Homo sapiens: one gene and its partners. The protein of the gene in region 3 interacts with the protein of the main gene of each other region in a biochemical or structural test. Each region holds a gene or a part of one and is shown on either strand. Other genes may lie near its edges.

Region 1 (7,119 bases), about 20 Mb from region 3:
TGAAATGTAGCAATATCTTTACAACCACTATGGAAGTGGGCATTTTATAAACACATTAGTAACAAAATTCAGAGATTTAGTTTTATAGGCAAGAAAATCTTTTGACTCTAACTCTTACCCCCCACCATTACTGTATTTTTGAAGTGCATCAAAAGTTCCAGAGAATATATTTTATACTTAAATGTTTATTATGATTAAGCTTCCCAAAGCATTTTCACCTAAATTATCACAGCACATTCAACAAAGCCCTGTGAGTTTTTATCCCAAGGAACAAATGACAAAATAGGCAAAGATGCAAAGTCACAAGAGAAGGCAAGTGCCAAGCACGATTTAGATCCCAGAACTTGGCATCCTAAGGCAGTGGTCCCTCCAGGGTGCTGCAGTGTCTGTACCCAAAACCAACCCAAAGCAAGCAAAGAAACCTTGGTTCAGAAACCATTTTTGCCCCAAATGATGAACTAAGTGTTTGTTACATGCCTACTACTATCCTATGATTTGTGGATCAATTATTTTAAAAGATAGATTACCAGTATGGGGTGGGGCTGGGGAGAAGCATGGTCCTATGTGACCAGAGAGAAGGAGTGTGTGCCTGAGAGCAGGGGGAGAAGGTAGAAAATCATGTGTTTGCCTAAAAACAGTGTCCTGGCTCTTCCCAACGAACTTGAACTTGAGAAATGAGACATCCCTGAAGAACACACAGTCAAGTGCCAGAACCACACACAAAGCACTGCACCTGTGAGCCCCGGACTGCCACAAACACCTTGCCTTTTCACACAGTGATCCTGGAGTCTGTGCAGGTGCGTTTATGCTTCATGTGGGAAAAGCAAACGCCAGAATTACAGAAAAGCATCTGGCATCTGTATTATTTCGCAGTAGAAACAGCTAATGTGTGTTGTAATAGTGAATATACCACATACTCTGCTATGTATTTTAAGTCCATGGTCTCTTAATTCACCGTCGCAACAACCTGAAGACACAGGAATTATTGTTTCCCCTGTGTTATGACACTTAGTAGTAAAATAACCGTTCACTTAGAAAATGATGAAGTTGGGATATGAACTCAGTCAGTTGGGGTACAACTTTGAAGCTATTTTCTCAACCATTTGCTCCACTGCTGTATTTACTACTGGGACACACGAAATCAGCAAGCAGTAAAATGTTTCCTTAAAGAAGAACTCCTGTAGGACAAGTGAGTAAGTTTAACTTCAAGCTTTAGAATTATGCTCCCAAAATAGGAACCAATAAAATGATATATAAACTGTTAAGACATGACAGAGTGACATAATTACTATAGACAAACAATATAAATCAATTTTAAAAAAGGAAAATAGATAAATTGAGAAATGTGTATAAGATATAAAAAGATAATTCACAAAAAAATTAGACGTAGACACCAACAAATTAGAAAATATTTAACCTCAGGAATATTAATAGAGAAGCAAATGAATTAGAGAAAAACACAATATTTCTCCTATGTAATTAGAAGTTTTATTTTTCTCATTACAACACCCAGTGTTGTTGAAATCATGGGAAAATTTGTACACTCCTGCCTTGCTGAGAGAAATATAAATTATATAATCTTCCTGGAAGACAAATGAACAACATATATCAACAACCTTGAAAACATCCAGTTCTAGGAAGTAATCTAGAGTAAATAACCTGATGACAACTATTTAGTTATTAGGATCTTAATTACAGCATTAAATATAACTACCAAAAATGAAAATGTCATCAATCTCCAATAACAGAGTGATGTAAGTAAATAATGTTATATAAAGGTATGGAAAACAGACACTAAAAATAAATACTAATTACATGAGATGTTAATAGGTAACTAAACAGAATATGAGCAATGTTTTCTAAATTTAAAAATGTGTATCGCTTGATATCTCTGCTAAAAATATGGTCATTTCTGGGGCTTGCAACCATGCATGAATTTTAACTTCTTTTAATCATTTCTGTATTTTTGAATTTTCAATGAGCATGCACTACTTTTGAAAACAAACAAATCTCAAATTTAAAGGCGAGAAAATGTAAGTATGGCTGATCAAAATCTGTGTAATCTACATTCCATGATGAATGACCTTTGTTAACTTTAAGTCATGCATTCAGCTAATTAATGAACTTCACCCCAAAATAAATATATACTATTCTTTTCAAGAATGGAAAGGCATGCTTTTCTTCTGCATAATGTAATATATATATTAAACTATGATATATTTAGTGGAAAAGTAATATATAAAGAACAAAACTCTTGAAACCCTGACATAAACACTGTGTTCTCAGTGTTCTCACATTTGGGAGTGGGTATGTGTGCTGGGTATCACATTCAATATAGTTATTTGCCTTGATTATCTTCTTAGCTTTAGTATTATGAATAGTTCTCATATAATTAGCTACTCTGAAACTATAATTCATAATTGCATATTTCTTTGGCTAGAGGTGCCATAATATATCTATGCACCTGCTATGAATTTAACATTACTCTTTTTCAACCTGAGTTAAGCAACACAAATAATCTGATCCAGATGCTACAAGCCCCAGCCTTCCTGCATCAACCTTCCATGTCCTGGGTTAATGAGACAATTTGTACTATCTCTGAGACTTTTTATATAACACCTGTCTGTCTTTCTGGAGGATTCTTCTTCCTTATTTGGTTTCCCCATGACCCCAAGAACAATGCTCCACACCAGTGAAGACTGTGTTAGAGATGAGAGATTGAACTGTGGCTCTTTTACATTTGGAGCTACCAAAGAGGTTGCTCTTTCTGGAAATTACATTATTGTATACTGTTGAAGGTAATGACTGCTATATTAGTCTAATATTTGAAAGTCCAAATAAAATATGTGACAGAGGATAAAATTTGTTTTAAAAAGTGAGCATTTTTAGATTGAGTAGTCATGCTTAGACTTAAATACAACATCGTATCTATTTAGAAAAGCAATGTTTATCTTCTTTCTTTACTGTGTCCATGATTTCTCCTATTAATTGCAAAACATCAAACAGCCACCAAAATCTAATTATTTATACTGAGGCAGAAAAAGCTGTGGAAAATAGCTAGCCTAGATCACTTATATATGGTTTGGGAAGTCAGATTTTAACATCATCTTTTTTATGTCTAATTCTCACCACTTACAAAGCGATCCAATTATTGGCAGTTAAAGAATAACATGAAAAATAGGGGAAGAACGCCAAGGGTAAGTTATTTTAAAGTTGGCTATACATAAATCTGCTGAATTTCATGGACCATAGTTGCTACAAATCAACCAGGGCATTAGACGCTACCTTGATAACTCTTGATGTAGTGTCAAAATACCATGAAATATTTAAAGAGCTCAACTACCAAGCAAAGTACTGTGAAAGCTACTATATCCAGAATTCTATCAACTAGAATTCTTCATAAACCATGCCAATGGGGAACACTTCTTCTCTATTCTGATATTTCCTTTCAGGCAAAGGGAACTTAATTAATGTAACACTGCTGGCCTCTCTCCAGCTTTTCACTTTCTCTGCCTCTGAAGAATAAAGAAGCAGCTTGCCTTGCTGCTTCTCTCTTCCTCTGGAGATCATCCTCCCTGCAGAGAGCAAGGCTTGGCTCTGCCAGCTCAGAAAAAGCTCTGTCCCTGTGGGGAGGGAGGAGGGAAAGAAGGCAGAGGACCTGGGATGTAATTCAACTGCCACACCAAGCTATGTCTAATCAAAACTGATATTTTTGCCCATGGCAGCCAATTATTTATCTTTTTCCCTTCCAATATCCCAACATGCTGAGATGGGGAGTGGGGAGGAGGAGAGCTTGATATTTATTTGATTCCTTAAAGACACCAACAACCCACATTCCTGCACATTTTGTAATTCTTAAAGTAACTATATACCTTTCTGTGGTTTATGTAATTGCATATTTAAATGCAAAGAGATAATACAATAAAGCATTTGTACATTATAAGGAGGTTTCTAAACCAAAAGAAAGAACTGCATAAAACATGCACAAAATGCAGTTTTCTTAAAATTTCTAATGACAGTTGTGATAATCACATCTGTTAAACCAAAAATGTTACTAATACACTTCTCTGGCCTTTACCTAGGCAAGAGAAGTGTATTTTCTAATATCAATGATCCAATTAATTGTTCCCCCATCATCTAGTGTTATAAAGTAAACATCCTATTTAGTAACATTTCTGTATCATTCAAAACTTGTAGAAATGTTACATATATTTATTTAACCAAATATAATTGGCTCACCTGCTTACTTTGATCCAAAAAAACAAAAAAACCCAGTAAGGCCTTTTATCATAACATGTATTTTGCTCTGGTAACTTATAATTGGCAGTTCCCACAACAACACATAAATTTGAATACAAATAACCACATTTATTGTAAAAATGTTTTTCTGACTGAAGATAAATTTGTCCCCCATTATACAGCTCACATTCTGAAACAAATTCCAAGATACATCGAATCGTAATTATCCTAAAAATTATGTTGCTGAAGATCACAGTTCTAAATGAAGCCCCTCTGGGTTTGATCATCCCAAGGAGCTGGACATCTTCCAACCTGGAAGAGCTGGGCACTTTTTTGTCTTCACTGAAGCTCTTAAGAGTGAAACAAAGCAAAAATGACCATCTATTTTCAAAGAGGTACCAATTCACACACTTTTTAGTTCTCTTCAAGGACTTGATTTTAATTGGGGAGGGGGTCTTCCCTTTATGTAATACATTTAGCTGTTTAAGGTTTCTTTTTTCTCTATCATAATGACATGATGATGAGATTCATGCTCGGTGGTTCTAAACAGAGCGGATGTGTAATATCTGACCTCACAGAGAGTGATGCTTATTAAACTGTCTATGATAGTCTTTGTACAACATTAATCTTTGTAGAAAATTTGATCTTAATCAGGTGACTAATATAACACTAATAAAGAATATCAAAGTTTTGTAATTTCTACTGGGTTAGAATCTTTTATAATAATGGTGTTGGGAGATATAATTTACTTCTCCTTTAGCTTAACTGCTATATACTTTAATATATAAAGGGCTGGTATGTTTCAGAATAGAAAGTTTAGCATATTTTATAAGCAAATCTGCATAATGAAGCAATATTACAATAGGGGTTGGGGTAGGGAAATTACAGCCATTTAATATCCTTTGTTAGAGAGGATGGTAACCTAGATAACCTATTTAATTAGATATGTATAAAACATTAGTACCTGTCTTAATATGTATATATTGATTTCTTGTGTTCACATAAATTTTGTAATTTACAAGCCACTTATCCATGCTCTTACTCACTTTATCCTCAAAGAAATCTTTTAAGATATTGTGTCTTATTCTACCCATTTTACAGCTGAAGAAACTGAGTTAACAACTGAGGATCACATAAATGGTGAGGGATACACAGCTAAGAAGAGACAGGGCTGGAATCCACCAAAAGCCAGTGCTCTCTCCACATCTCTGTACCCACCAGAAGCAGAATGCAAAACAGCATTACACTAGGGAAACTTATTTTTCCAATAATTGTCATTTCAGATCACAAACATATTTCTAGAGAAATAGTTGGGCTCTGACATATAACGTGTTTGTGTGTGTGTGTATGTGTAACTTTATTACAAAATATTGTAATATATAATATATAAGAACCCAATAAAATGTTTCAATATATGTAATTCATTTTGCACGTAATGTGCCAAGAGAGACAGGTGAATATTTATCTAAGATAGAAAGGTTCTAGGAAGCATTGTTTCACTTATTTAGTCATTATTTCCAATTTGTCAAAAACTAATTGATACAGGTACTTCAATATCCTGACATAGCTAAGACACTTCCTACAAATCAATTAACCATGATTCAGAGCTTGGAATTGCACTTAACTGCTATGTGATCAAAAGATAAACAACTGGAGGTGTCATAACTGCAGATTTTTGTTATGAGTCTTAATATTTAATGGACTAAAAAGCACAGTATGATAAAATATTTCTGTGAGTTCCCTGTGTTGGAGGTACTGTTTGTGACTATAACTGAGTTTATTAAACCCAACCAGGCAGTTTGTTAATCAGTAGGCTGGATTGGCAGACAATGTGATAGAAACTATTTATTGATGACATGTTTAATATTTTATATTAATATAAAAAGCTGTTGCTTTGGCATATAATCAGATAACTTGAAGCTAGCAACAAGTATCATGAACTGTTCCTACTCAAATTAACTTTTCACACACCAGAAGGCTATCAAAGTACTGTGGACAGGAGAACACCTTCAGAAGATGAATGAGGAAAACCATCATGGAAGCCAACAATGAATTTGGCTTGGCAGTGTATTTCCAACTTGCAAATCAGCCAGCAAAGAACCACACCTTCAGCTGAAGTACTGGACTTGAAAATGACTAGCAGTCCATGCTTAGTTTTTGTTCATTGTCTGAATTATGACATCCAAGTTTAAGTACTCCCAACTATGTTAAGTCTTTTAAAAATAAAAACTCTGTTAGGAAAAGTGAGACTAGCATCAAGGATTTCCCTCTAAGAAGTGAAAATAATGTTCGCACAGAGAAAAAACAAAAATGGGTGTTCCCATTTTCTGTGGCTAATCATAAAGAAGAAAACATTGGAAGTTCAAAATGTAACAGTTTCTATTTTAATTCAATTGGCTTGTTACAGCTGTATACACTGGTCCATACATAGTGTACTGACCCTATGGACAAATTACAATAAATTATTTCAAATGTAATGTTAATGTTTTCTTAAAGACAACCTGATGAAATTACTCTGAAAACCCCTTCGACAAGTCCACACAAATTCATACCACACAAGAAAGAAGTCTGATAAGGCAAAACAGAAAAGAGCAAGTTCTGTAACATTTTCTGCAAATACACTGCATATTCAACTAAATGCCAAAGTAATATTATATTTGAGATTATAACTTCATTTTTAATTTTAGAAACTATTATGAAAGCAATATTATCCTTAGAAATTATTTAACAAAACTATAAATTGCATTTGCAAACTAGTATTTGAATTTCATTTTTGTCTCTGATGAACAATTTCACTGGGAGAAAGAATTGGCTTATATTCTATTGTGAAAGATGTAAAGTGGATAGAAATACTGTAATTTGACAGTGTATGACTTTTAT
Region 2 (7,023 bases), on a different chromosome or scaffold from region 3:
ACTTTATCTGATTTTTCCACATTGTACAGCTAATCCCAACTTTTCCTAATTCTCTCCCAACATCCTGATTCCAATTTTTTATTGTTCAAAGTCAAGTTCTTCCAAGAACTAAACAAAGGACTAATAAATATTGGCTTTTCTTAGTGTGGGAGGTGCTTCAGCAGTTTAAGGCAGTGAGGGACACAATCATGATCATGATGTGGATCCTATCCCTTAGGGGAAAAGGCTCACACAAAAATAACCACACCATTTGATATAGAGTGTCAAGGGTCACAATACAGTAAGGAAGAACTCACCCTCTCAAGAAGGGGGAAGGCCAGGAAACTTTCAGAAAGTTTTTACAGGTAATCATTAGGCAGAGCCATGGGAGGATTTGTATAATATATTCAGAGGATGGGGATGGGGTGGGGCTCAGCCAATCCTGAAACCACCAGAGCCACCTGAGCGGAACTATTATTAAGCCCTAGCAACCCTTCTCAGGCCCCGCTTATTCCATTACTCTCTTTCCCTCCTTTGCCACCCACCTCTGTTTTAACATTCCTCTTTAAAAAGAAAACCCCAAAATTATCAGTATTGGCGTACTTTTTGAAGATTTTATCTTCACCTCCCCCACTCCTCCATAGACACCCAGGTATGACAAGAGACTCAGTGCTCCTGCTTCCTCCTATTCCTTGCTGCCTCTGCTATGCTTCTTAGGGAATTTACCACTAATCTTTAGGGGATAATATGAAAAAAATAAACATTGGAAAGTTACAAAGTTTTCGTAATCTTAAAAGTTTCAGGTAGACTTCTTTCTGAGCTGGTAATTGAAAAGTTGTTTGGATTTCTGCTGTTTACTTTCGTTCTTGAGGGTGGAGTCACCAGACCTCCTAATATTCTAACCTTGCCCTGGGCCCCAGTGTCAGCCTGAGCACAGGCCCTCTCCCCACCCCTACTTTCCAGCACTTTTCCCAAGGTGGCCAGGCTAGCAGTTTAAATCATCCTCTTCTCAAGCCAGTCATTTGCATTTCTGTGGATCCTCAGGCTAGGTAACAGTGGTTTCATTCCTTCACTGGAAATCTGGAATTGGGCCATTCCAACTTGGAGGCAAAGGACATTTTTGTAGGAGAGAACTTAATTGGCAAAATAAGCTAGGATTTTGAGGACAAAGAGCACAATCTTCAAAATCATTTCAGTGGTATTCAAGGGCCAAAACATTGGCAACAAAGTAGAAACCTCAAGAAATTCCCTTCAGACAGTTTCTTGGTGAAAAGAAAGGCCAATAGATAGAGATGGTGGTAGGGTAGAAGGAAGGTGGTTTTACCAAAAGCCAGATATTTGGAAGGCTTAGGAAAAATCTTTGGAGGAGAGGGTGTAACACATCATGTAAGAGAGAAATTATAATCAATAGAGCAAAATCCTGGTAGAGAGAAGATGGCTCATGTTTAGGAGCATAAGTGGAGTATGAGCCTTGAAGAGAAATGTGGTCACCCTTCTCAGCCATGACTGAAGGAGGTGAAGATGTGTGAAAACTAGGACTGAGGTTTAAGAAAGTTAAGTTGAGGAACCTCATGGTGGATCCTTCAGTAGAGTACGAGGCAAGATCATTTGCAGAAGTGCAGGAAAACCACGTAAAGTGGGGGCTTCAGGAGAGCAGACATTGGACAGGTTTGGAAGTGGCCTGGATAATGTTCCTGGATAAGTGTTCCAGATAATCATCCTCCTGATGAGGAAAGGAACTGAGAATCAGTGAAGACACAGCCAAGTCTGAATAGCATGAACTTTTAGTGGAATGAAGTGATTCTTTAACCTTGTCTAGCAATGCTTAGTAGCGCAGGAGCAAGTTCAAAAGAAACCTTTCAACTAAATACAAAAATAAACAAAAAAATTAATGTTGAGTGGCAACTTATTTCAGGGGACATTATTCATGGTGGATTTCAGTAACATTTTAATTATGACAAACACGAAATCTACAATATCAAAATAGTCATCTGAGAAAAACACCCACACAAAAAGATTATTGGAGTAATAATCTTTTATTTTCTTCTTTCTATGCTAGCCTAAGGCAAGAGAAAAGACCCATTTTTTCTTTCCATTAGACACAACTTTCATTCATTTGATGTTATTGAAATTTAAAAGAAGCAAAATCATTGGTATCTTTTCATTAAACATGTGTCTCATATAACAATTTGTGGTTTACTTTTTCTGTTCTATAAACAAAAACACACATTAAAAAGCCGGAAGAAGTAAAAAACAGCCTATTTCCATGATGGCCAGCCATGGCACAGCACTTCCTGGCCCCTGCTGATCCCTTCTCAATTCTGAAAATATTTAGGGGGAACATACACACGTTCACCTGTTTTGTTCCACAGTCCTACCCTGTGTAGGACTGTCAACTGAGTTCACATTTTACTACAAATGTGGAGAGGTTTTTTTTTTTCCAATCAAGGCACCATATTAACATTTCTTAGGTTACATCTTTGTAATCTTCAATTATAGTAAGATAAAAACCAGTAGCAAAGCATATCACCCAACTTAAAATTCAGAACAATACTTAGACATATGCAGCTTGCACACACATTAACCTGTTTCTCCCAACAAAATATTTGTAATTTCCAAAATCCTATCAGCTTTTTCACACAATATGGTCCCTCCAATTTGAGGGGTAGTAACATAGTCTCCTTACTAAAGAGATTAGTCTAAAAAAAGTAAAATCGCCAAAAGAATGTAAGAATATCAGTGGCTATAGGCTAGAGCAATATCATCTTTTAAAGCCTAATATGTTCATGAAATCTCACTTTAAGAAGGTGATATCTAAACATAAAATTTATTGACAAAAAACAATTAGTATTGATAAACCACCACAAAATGATTTTAAATGAAAGTAGAAGACATTATTAAAGCTCAAGATTTTTGCGTGTACTGATTTCATGCCTCAGGTTATTTCCATATCAAATTTAAAGAGATACTGGAAAATAGAAAACAAAATCCATCAACTGTAATCCATTTCCCTTACTCTTTTGTGAAATCATCACAAGGTGTGAAGGATTGTTTCTGTTTCCTCTATCTTTAACAAGCCTGTAACCTCTCAAGTGAAAGAACATGCACCTGTCAAGCTCATAGTGCGGGATGTACACACAGATGTGTTTAATAAATATCTGCCCACAGGGAGATTAGAGGTTTGCTTTGAGAATCAGGGAACAGGCTAGCTCATGTGTTGACGCTTTGGCATCTATCATACAATCCGCCACCTCGTTCCCTTACCAAAATATCCTCAAAGGAAATCCTCTTTGAGTCTTTCAGAAGAGTTATGAGTTTGAGGACCCAAAACGTTGAGGAAAGATCCACCCCAGGGAAGGGGGAGTGGCTGCAGAGAACAAACATAAGTAGGATTTAGGTGGCTCAGTGACGTCAGGAGGAAGCAGCGATGGAAGGGATGGGGTGCAAACTCACCTGGAGAAGCAGAAGCTGCACACATGTCAAAGGTCAAAGGGCATAGCCTCAGGGACTCCCCAAACGCAGGAAAAGTGAAACGCCCACTCCTGGGCTCTCGCCGTCAGGGGTACATCTAAGGGCTCAGCTGTTCCTACCTTTGACGCCAGGGACAAACCCTACCAGGCACAGTTGGGATTGGCAGTAAGGCAAGGAAAGCCTGCCCCAGATTTCAGAGCCAGCGCTGGGGAATCTCCCTGTCCTCTCCGCCACCCCCTCCCGCGCCCGAGACCTGAGACACCTTCTCTCTCACACCCACCCTCTCCAGGCCCTCTCGCGCTGAACAGCATCGGTCTCTATGGCGACCTGAAACCGCAGCTCCCATTGGCCTGTTCAATATGAGGGCCGGGCCAATGGGGAGGGCCAGCCCTCTCCTTCCCGCCAATGGGGTGGCGGGAGCTGGCCCGGGGACGGCGGCGTGCTGACGTTCCCGGGAGCCCGGGGCTGGCCGGGCGGGAGGGCTGGCAGCGGGGCGGGCGGCGGCGGCGGCCTCTGGGCAGTAGAGGGGGCTCCGGGGCTGAGTCCGCGTCGACGCCGGCCGCGGAGGCGGCACCATGGGCAAGGGGTAGAGGGGCAAGTTGGCCACCGCCGCCGCCGGGGGTGGTGGGAGAGCCGCTCCGGGGGCGGGGGCCGGTGGGGGAGGGAGGGGCGGGCAGCCGCGCCGCCGCGGCACTTTTTTAATTTTTTCGGGTGCCGCAGCGGCGACCCCTCGGCGCCGATGTCCCTGATCCCTGGAGCGACGACGGCCGCTGCCTAAGCTGGAAAGTAAGTGTGTGGGCTCGCGGGAGGGCGCGGAGACTCCTGCCCACGAGACCCTCGGCCCTCGCCCCGAACACGCGCCAGGGCCAGGACCTGCGCGCCGGGGGCCGGGGGCCTCCCTCCCGCTGCCGCGTCCCCAGCGCCTCGCGGCCGCCGCGGCTTTCCTGCCCCGCCTCGTGTTCCTGCCCGCACTCGCCTGCTGCTCCCCTCCCCCCGGCAGGCGCACAAGTTTCACCCTCCATTTGCTTTTCCCGGCGATTCCTCTCCCCGGTCTCCCGTACGCGCAGCGCACGACCTCTGCCCACGCTGGGCTGTTCGGATTCAGAGCTCCCAGCCCCGAACTTGAGCGCCGCGCTGAGCCCTGCTGGACGCCCTCGCGGCGGCTTCCCCGCTGCCTGCCGCCGCGCGCCCCAAGTCGCCCTCGACACCACTGGGCGCCCGCCCTCCTCAGCACTCGGGGCCGGCTGTCTGTCCTTCTAGCCCCAGATCCTGCACCTTGGTCCCCTCCCCGTCTTCCCACGCCCCTGCTGCCCGCGCGGTCTTGCGTTTGTCCCCGAAGTCCTGTACTCCTTGCCGGTCCTGCCCACCCCTCTGCCTAGTGCGCCCCTCTCTACCGGCCGCGGATCCTCACGCTCCACCCCTCCCGGCTCCCCAGCGCCGAGCCTCGCCGCTGCCCTCCTGCGCCGCCGCTTCCTCCTCTCCCTGCCAGGAGTTGAAGCGGAGCTGCGGCACCTCCCTGGCGGATCTGGTATCCCCGCCCGCTGCCGAGGCTGCCGGCCCTCTCCCCTGGACCGCTACCCGGAGAGCGAGCGGCGGGGCCGGGATTTGGCTGCGTGTTGGCTGAGTGCGACACACCGCGAGCGCGGGCAGTGGAGGTGCCGCGGCGGCCGTGGCCGCTCGGGGCGCAGCGGTAGTCAGGTGTGTGTGTACAGCGGGGGACGCGCGCTGCCGGCTCCTGGGCTGGCGACAGATTGTGCAGGAATGCGAGGAATGCACCAGGGGCAGAGTCCACACAGCCCGCCGCGGCTGCCCTAGCGCCTTCCCTCCCCAGCTCTCGCCGCGCAGCCAGAGGTCACCGGAGCATCTTCGGAGCTGGTGAGCCTCATTCCACTCCTCTCCTCCCATAGCTTCCCTCCATGCGGCAGAGGGGAAGCGCGGTAATTCTTTGGGGCTCCAGCTAGCCTTTCGTCTGGGTTTTTGCTGCATTGGTCTTCAGGACCGTGAATTTGGGGCCGATGACTGTGTAGCCAAGGTTATTGATCATTGCACAGGGCTGTTGGCAAGTTTGGTGTGCAAGGTTTGGATAGTGCCTGGTTTTCACTAGGGTTTTCTGAAAACCAGCAGAAACAGGGGGCCTGAAGGTTGTTAGAGTAATGAGCTTGCAGCCAACATATTTTAGCTCTATCAAAAAATGCCTGTTAGTGCTCACGGGCATGTACTGCGAGAGAGATCTTGAATGCATCACTTTGGTATCCTAAGAAGTGTAATTTTTTTCCCTCGTCATACTGGGCTGTGTTTAGACCTCGTATAATACATAATGAATAGAAACAGAGAAGCACTGTTCGGTCAGCGATGGGACAGATAGAACTGTCTGGTACAGTTAAATTCGGGACGTGTCAGTTACCATTGAAAGTAACACGGGGACACCACAATCATGTATATTTCAAGATGTAATTTATTAGTGGAGGTCTCAGTTTTTTCTCTTTGTTACTGAGTTTGACTGAAAAAAAAAAATAAATGCTGCCCTACAAGTTTTAAAGAACGGTAATTATTTACGTGTAAAATCAATGATGGCTAGTATGCATTTTTGGTCAAATTTTGTTTTCCTTAATACGGGAGAGCAAAATTTTGACAGAAAATGGTTCGCTAGAATTGAGCTTAGATTCTTTTTATTTTTAAAGAGAAACTAGAAGAATGCTTCTCTTCTTGAATGCAGTATATTGCTGTAGGAGTATCTTCGTTTTGGTGCCTGTGAAACAGTTATGGAAAATGGCAACATGAAAACGAGAACAACTAATGTCTGAAATAAGTGTTTCTGGGTGTTGAAAAGCATCATATGTGTGTTTTTATTTGACACAATTTGCTTTGCAGGTTGCATTTATGATAAACCTCTTTGCACCTGGTTATTTTATGTCAGATTCAGTAAAATAATAAGTCAGTTGTCTGACCAATCAGCTTTCTTCCAACACCTACTTTGTGTAGATCATGGACATTGAAAACTATTAAATAGGAGCCTTTAGTTAAGGACTCAACAGAAAGGAAAAAAAATAGAAAAAAATATTTTGCACTCAGAAACGTTTATGTTTTGGTTGCTACGTTGTTTTTCAGCTATGTGCATAATCAGTGAATCTTCTAATTTAGAGGTTTAATTTGTGTCCAGTAACACTGTGGAGGATATTGGGAGGTGTTTGTAAATGCCAACAGGAAACTTTTATTATGTAACAGTATCATATTACAGCAGTGTTTAACCCATGCTTAACCCGTGCTTTTTTGACTTGATGTCAAGATTGGGAAGTAAAAGCAAATTTAGTTTCCCTGCCGCATTAGAAATTGAAAACCCTGTTCAGATGTATGGATCACACACACACACACACACACACGACACACACACACACGATTGGCTGTGCAGATAGTTTTGCCTGCTTCAGGTAAAGGTAACCTTTCAGTTAGAAATGCTTTCTATTTGTTACAGATATTCAAAGAGTGGAAGTTTTTCAACTAGTGATCCTACACAATTGAAAATAACCGAAATTGTATTTTGACCAAAGTGCATTCCCTCCCCACCCCCTACTA
Region 3 (7,518 bases):
CAAAGTGCTGGGATTACAGGCGTGAGCCACCACGCCAGGCCTGTCTTGCTGGTGTCTTAATGTGTGTTAAGCAAGTAAACTCAAAGGTAAATCAAATCCCACCACAGTCCAAAAGAATCTACTTGGATAAACACTACACTCTACCCTATTGCAAAATGATTGAATCATCTATATAAATTGTGAAAGTCATACGTGGTCTGTAGTTACTAGTTTGTAATTCAGTTTTTTCTGCCAAAAATTGTATAAAAAAATTACCGTGGCAACCAATGCTTCAATAGTACAAATGGAAGGCTGAGAGACAAAGATATAAAATAATGGGTTGGCTTGTAAGGGGAAGCCCAGGAGAAAATTACAAATTCTTCACGTGCAGTATTATTAGACCACACTGGAAACAATAAAACACATTTGCATAAAATCCAACGTCACGCTCATGGATACAGTGAAACTCATTTTCAATGTACGTGGATGAAAAGTGCTTACTTAAACCTTTCCCCTAAATATATATTTTAAGACAGTATGGGCTGGGTGCAGTGGCTCACGCCTGTAATCCCAGCACTTTGGGAGGCCGAGGCAGGCGGATCACCTGAGGTCAGGAGTTTGAGACCAGCCTGGCCAACATGGTGGAACCCTGTCTCTACTAAAAATACAAAAATTAGCTGGGGGTGGTGGTGGGCACCTGTAATCCCAAGTACTCAGGAGGCTGAGGCAGGAGAATCACTTGAACCCAGGAGGCAGAGGTTGCAGGGAGCCAAGATCGCGCCATTGCACTCCAGCCTGGGCAAAAAGAGCGACACTTCATCTCAAAAAAAAAAAAAAAGAAAGAAAGAAAGAAAAAGAAAAAAACCAGTATGCATCAAATGCAGGTCCTTTTTTGTGTTTTGGCTAAATAAAATATTTCATCTGAGACGGGATAAATATTACAACATTTTTATCAATGTTTAAAATAAAGTCTTATCTCTACAGTACTATGACCAAGTACTGGAATGTGACCTTGGGCACCCTCTCAGCTGTCATGTCACTCTACTTCAGTGTTTCTCCAAGTTATCCTGTGTGGGCCACCCAAATTACAATCACTGGGGTTCTGGTTAAGGGGCATCCAGGGGCTCCCCAAAGACCAAGTATATAGTGATCTCAGGGGGTGAGTCTGGAGTTTTTTAAATTTTCAAACTTCTGGGAATCCTTAAGTGTAGTCCAGACTGAGATCCACTGACTTAATGTTTTACTACCATCGTCACTCATTTGTTCTTTTTCTTTGAGACGGAGTCTTGCTCTGACTCCCAGAGAGGAGTACAGTGGCGTGATCTTGGCTTACTGCAAACTTCACCTCCCAGGCTCAAGCAATTCTCCTGCCTCAGCCTCCCCAGTAGCTGGGATTACAGGCGCCCGCTATCATGCCCAGCTAACTTTTGCATTTTTAGCAGAAGCTGGGTTTCACCCTGTTGGCCAGGCTGGTCTCGAACTCCTGACCTCAAGTGATCCGCCCCTCTCGGCCTTCCAAAGTGCTGGGATTACAGGCATGAGCCAGGGCACTTGGCCTCATTTGTTCTTTTTAAGCCCCTTTCTTGGCCAGGAGATGGCTCGTTCTAGCGTGAGGTCATGAATGGAAGAGTTAGTGGCCAGGAATTTGTGGAAGAAAGAAAAAAGGGTAATTCGCTAGGTAAACAGGAAGCTAGAATCTGTTTTGGAGATAAAATGAACCCACAGAGGCTGGGAGGAGAAAGGGAATTGAGCCAGTTGTTGACTAAGGCTACTTCTCCTCCCTTGAAATTTACTTGGAAGAGCAGCTGAGGCGGAAAGATGGAAAGCAGTCTTTTCAAGAGTTGGTAAGCAAACCTCCAGTTTTAGTTTCAGCTGCCTGGTCTGTAGATTTTTCTTCATAGAGGGAGAAAGCTCAGAAGTAAACCACATGGCACTGCAATCCATGAGAATCTACTTGGACTCACCTAAACCACGCTACATTCTGTCACTGATATAGCTTGGGATCACACATTTTTTCTTTGTTTATCATTTTAATCTTCCTTTGCTCTGAAGTCTTAGATATTCTATATACAGCCTCCTCCTCCTCCACATCACATATATTATGAGCACTAAATTAAAATGGCAACTTTGATAGAAATACTAATCTGTGACTAAATGTTTAACAAGGGGGCAAAAAGGATTTACATTTTGATCTTCAAACATTGGAAAATAAATGCCCTCAGTTGTCAGCTTTCCAAATTGACAAGACTGCAAGGGCAAAACAAAATTTCCATGCATTTGATTGACCTCTGTGAATTGAGCTATTATTAGCAGATAAGAACTTGCCAAAAATATCTGGAAAATATCAGCTGAAAAGTGATTGAAACGAAGTATTTAAAGCAGGTCAGCAGGGCCATGTCTGAAGGAGACAGATTATAAAATACATCTGTATATATTGTATTTATACATAATATATGCCACATATAACATACATGTATATACCTAACAATTCATTTTAATTCAGCAAATATTTATTGAGTGGCTATTGGGTCGGACACCATGCCACCCTAGGCTTTGGGAACACAAACAATAAGCTTTAAGTTCTCTTACCTCCAAGAACTCACAAGCTAGAAATATGTGAGACAAAACGCCATAATTCCTACAACATAATACACCTGACAAGGGTTAGATGAGCAATTTGCATAAAGTGCTACCATTGCAGCAATTAACAAGGCAGAGGAAACGTGATGTTTGTTCTGATGATCAGAGAAGCCTTTCCAGTAGAGATGACATTTACCTCCTTGGGATTTCAGCAGACACAGGAGAGTGAGAATGTCACTCTGGCAGAGGAAACAGAATTTACAGATTAGGAGTACATGGCTGGAATGAAAGAGTTGGGGATGGAGTGGATAAGAAATAGCAGTGACTACAGTTTGAGTGATACATTTATTTGCATATTCATTGATTCAGCAAACTTTTCATTGGTGCTGAGGGAGGTAGGCCCAAGGTATGTGCTGGGTACAGAGGCTGAGAAAACACGGGACAGAGTGGTGGAAGATGGGCCTGGGATTGTGGAAAAAACAGAAAGCACCAGCCCTGTTTGATCCTTCTAGAAGGATTTTTTTGTAGTGTCCCAATGATACCTTTCATTGATAATGGTTACCATTTCATTGAGCACCTCCTAAGTGCTGTGCTGAATAGCTGTGTTACTGCTAGTTCCAGCAATCCTGCATGGTAGGTGTTTTCTCTATTTACACATAGGAAGAGAAGCTCTGAGTGCCTGAGTGCCCAGCTTGTCATATACGATGCTTGGATTTGTGCAAGCATTGATCTCAATGGCCTGGTAATTATAAAAGCTGAAGAACAGCTGAAATCAAGAACTTCTCCACCCCAGCCCCTGAGGACAATACCACCTCCAAATGCCTTGGGCCCACTCTGGTCTCTGGTGTGGTGGGACAGCGCTGTCCGGTCTGCGCAGGTGATTTATGTCTGCCTGCTTTTCGGAGAGGCCAGAGTTTATTGCCTTGCTGGGCAGAACTGCAGCTGGGGCCTGCCCTGTCCCATCCCCATCCCCCCGAAAGCAAAGATTTCCAATTACTGTTCTGTAGAAAATGTCAAAAGCATTATTCAACTATTCATTATCCCAGGTTTTGCAATTTTTCATATGTTTTTACTCTTATCTGCCAGCACTTGAAAAAGACCAGCTTTTTCCTCTTAAGAGAGCTTAATTTGCAGAGCTGTGCAGTCTTCCTATTATGTTCTTATCATCCTCTCCCTTTGGTAGGCAGAATGACAAGGATGACAAAAAAAGAACCAAAAATATTTGAAGGCCTTCCTGAAAATCCACCGGAATGAAGGATCCCAAAAGCCTGAGGCTCGGTTCCTCGAGTGACCTGGACGGGAGCCAAGGGCGGCTGGCATTAGCTCTCACAGTCCACTCGGCAGGAGCTCGTGGCTAGTGCTCATGGGACCAAAACCACCACCCCAGGGCCATGGGATTCCCCCCCAGGGGCTTAACTGGGGGATTAAGCAGCTCTGAGGTGCCAAGAGGTCCCCTCTCCCCGAAATCCTCGTACCAGTGCTAAATTACCTTTGGTATCCCAAGGACCAGAGGCTAAGGGTAGCTTGGGGTGAGTGGTTAGCTCTTCCCCCATCTCCTGTGGCCCCTCCGCCCCATTCTTTGATAAGGTAACTGACATTTTTCTCTTTGCTGTGTAAAGTGCTATGCAGAGGCAACTTCACGTCCCCTAGCTCGCTCTGTTCCACCTAGATGGCGCCCTAAGCCCCGCCTGTATGGAGATTCGGAGCAGCCATCTCCCTGGATGCCTTCCTCCCACGATCCCCAGGTTTCTGAAGCGGGCGCACCAGGACTCCTGGCTCACCCAGAGAGACGCCTTGCCCGCGGCGGGGCTCGCTCGGGGAAATCCCCGCCCACCTTGTTATTCCTGCAGGGGAATCCCCGCCCCCCGTCCCTGTCACTCGGGGAAGGGAGTTCCCGCCCCTCGAATCAACCAGGGGGAGGGAATCCCCGCCCATCCTGGAGGCTCGGCGGATCCCCTGCGCAGCGAGGCGAGGAGCGGACCCCAGCGCCGGTGCGTGCCGGCCCCGGGCAGCGGGACGCGGCGGGGCGGCGGCTGCAGGCAGCCGAGGAGCCGCAGGCCGAACCCAAGGCACCGGGATTGCGCCTCCCGCGGCTGCCGGCGAACCGCGGCTCTGCAGCTCGGGGCAGGCGCGGCGGCGGCACCGGTGGTGGCCGCGGTGGCGGCAGCTGCGCGGGGACCCGCCGGGCGGCGCCTGGGTCTGGACGCGCGAGGAAGCCGCGGGAGCCTCGGCCAAGCCGCGAGCAGGTGAAGCGACCGTCCCGCTGCAGCCGGGACGCGCGGCTCCGGGTGGGCAGGGGATGGGGGAGGCCCGGCACCCCCGAGACCGTGTGTGCCCAGGAAAGTTTAGCTACAAATCCGGGTGCGGGAATCCCAGCCCTGGCAGGGCGGGGAGTGAGGACGCCGAACCGGGGTCCCACGTTGGGCGGCGCAAACTCCTCTAGCATCCGGCCGGGGACGGGGAGGGCGCAGCCCAGGGGAGGGGGCTAGACAGAGCGGGACCGAGACAGCGGGACAACCGGAGACGCACTGCCGGGGGTACTCAAGACAGGGCCGGGACCTCCTGCTCGGGCGCGCATCCCGGGTCCCCATCCCTGGGCCGTCTTCTGGTCCCTTCCTCCGACAGGAGTGGAGGTACTCAGGTACTCCGGCCTCAGGTAATGTCTTGGGGACCATCCTCCCTCGGGCTTGTTTCATCTCTCAACCCCCGCCTCTTTGCCCAGATGAGACGTTAGACGCGGGGCGAGGGAATGCAGGGGGCGCGCAAAGATCAAGGGCATCTTAGGGCCGGTTATTGGCGTCTGCCGGGGAGATGGGGAACATAGTGATAGGGAAATCCTGCTCTCTCTCTGAAGTCGAGTTTCTCCTAAAATCTGGTTTCTCCCTCCCTCTGTTCCTCTCTCCCTCCCTCGGGTTTGCGTTTGTGTTTTAAGTCTTTGAGCTGCCTGTGGTCCCCGCTATTTGGAAAATCCATTAAAGCGCAAGGCTGAATTCAGCAGCAGGAGGGTCCAGGACCCCTGGCAGGAGTTTGCCAGAAGCTGTCCTCGGCAGCCCAAATCTATGCAGAGACCTTGATAAGGGACACTGGAGTGGGAAGAGGACAAGGTCTGGCATGGGCTGGTCGCAGAGACTGGAATGGCAGGCACGAGGGCATTCCAGAGCTCCAGACCTGCCCTGGGACTGGCCGTTGGGCAGTGTTGGGGGATGGAGCTGAGTCTGAGTCTGTCCCCTGCAGCTGGCCTAACCTCTTGCCTCCACCAAAGGTAGGGTAGGTGGATATGTTTGCCTTGACAAATCGCAATGAAACTACTGGAAGTGGTTGCTGAGTGGCTGCAGTAAGTGATGCCCTGATCTGTCCTTGCAGAGAGACCCCCTGGACCTTCAGGGCCTGTTCTCCAGTGGGGTCTCTGAACACTGGAGGGCTTTAGGGGCCTGGCATCTCTACTGGGCCAGCTTTTGTGGGTTGTGACTTCTGGGTGGTGGCCAGATAGGTACAGGTTGGCAGGTGTGAAGTGGGAGTGCTGCTTGTGGGGGCAGAAGAGAATGTCTCAGAACACACCCCTGGCTGTAGGTGGTGGTTCTGGCTTCATGAATTCCTTCTTCCATTAGGATGGGCCCAGAGCTTCTGCTCCTATAATAACCACCTAGTTGTGTGAGTGAGTGTGTGTGTTGCGGGGGTTAGGTGTAGGAGTAGGGGGGTGGCAGGTGCTAGGAGAGGAAAAATCAGAACCATGTAAAGTATATAAATGTACCTACCTTGACATAGTTAATATGCTCCTGGAAAAATATTGAATTATACTTTAAATCTATCGCTGAAATTGATTTTGCATGTACTTTATGGCAGTTTACTATTTAAGGAAACTTATGATAATTTCTCTGTTCATTTCAATCATTTTATTTTTGGAATACCTGTGGTTTGCTGTGCTGGAGGCTGAGGAGGCTTCGAGGTTCCAGGATATGCTTAGATGAAAGATGCTCCCTCGCTGCTGTCAGTTTGTCAGTTTCTGTCCAGCAGGAGAAGGGAGAGAAGCCTGCTAAGCACTATGGTGCAGACCAGTGCACATGCTGCATGTAGTAGACGCCATGTGTTTATTGGATGAAGGAGTGAAGAGATAATTAAGTGAGTAAAGTACCTGAAGAGTGGTCCAAATAAAACATTTTGGGAGTATGGAGGAAAAAGAAGTCACTTTTGCCAGAGAGGATCTGAAAGGCTTTGTGGAGGAGCTCTTAGGTAGAAGTCGAGAGGTTGATCCTGAGTTAGGACTCAGTGCTAAGGACTCAGAGGAACTAAGGACTCAGAGGAACTAAGGACTCAGAGGAACTTAGTTCTCCAGATAGTAGGGAGATGTGTGAGATATTTTTTTTTTTTGAGACTGGGTCTCATTGTTGCCCAGACTCAAGCAATCCTCCCACCTCAGCCTCCTGAGTAACTGGGATCACAGGTGTGTGTTACCACAACCAGATAATTTTTGTGTTTTTTGTGGAGATGGGTTTCACCATGTTGCTTATGCTGGTCTCGAACTCCTGGGCTCAAGTGATCCTGGTGTCTTGGTCTCCCAACGTGCTGGAATTAGAGGCATGAGTCACTGCGCCCAACCTGGCCCCTCGTTCTGCTCCTACACAACCCTTTAGCACACTCACCATGCTGCCCTGGGTGTGTTTCTTTAGGGCCTTATTTTTTTCATACCCAGATAAGGCCTGGAACAGTTGCTAATCAACTTCCTCAGGTTAGACAGGAAAAGAGGCAGAGGGAACACCCCAGACCCCACTACCCCCGGCTGATCATACTGTAGGGTGTTGTGGAAACCCTCTCCCAGAGGCTCCAGGCCTGGTGAGCTGAACAAGATAACACAGAGCTGTGGATACCCCCTTGCCTTTGATCATGTGGGCCTAAGTGACTCGGACCATGGTGGTGGGGGCATCTCTGTTGGAAGGTCTCTCCTACTGCACCATCCACAAG

The links.
Region 1: the proteins of PDZD2 (region 3) and CTNND2 form a complex in vitro, tested with the Homo sapiens proteins (2 studies listed by BioGRID and IntAct, with this or other methods).
Region 2: the proteins of PDZD2 (region 3) and PKP4 form a complex in vitro, tested with the Homo sapiens proteins (2 studies listed by BioGRID and IntAct, with this or other methods).

The regions. Positions count from the first base shown.
Region 1 is NC_000005.10:11,894,441-11,901,559, forward strand, and holds part of CTNND2 (catenin delta-2), read right to left. Parts: intron 1-7,119. UniProt on the Homo sapiens protein: Has a critical role in neuronal development, particularly in the formation and/or maintenance of dendritic spines and synapses. Involved in the regulation of Wnt signaling.
Region 2 is NC_000002.12:158,452,983-158,460,005, forward strand, and holds the start of PKP4 (plakophilin-4), read left to right. Parts: upstream 1-3,969; 5' UTR 3,970-4,148; coding exon of another isoform or gene 4,149-4,472; exon of another isoform or gene 4,473-5,325; intron 5,326-7,023. Other genes in the region: CCDC148 (coiled-coil domain-containing protein 148), read right to left, coding at 3,433-3,457; uncharacterized protein LOC124907900, read right to left, coding at 4,149-4,472. UniProt on the Homo sapiens protein: Plays a role as a regulator of Rho activity during cytokinesis. May play a role in junctional plaques.
Region 3 is NC_000005.10:31,634,633-31,642,150, forward strand, and holds the start of PDZD2 (PDZ domain-containing protein 2), read left to right. Parts: upstream 1-4,498; 5' UTR 4,499-4,805; intron 4,806-7,518.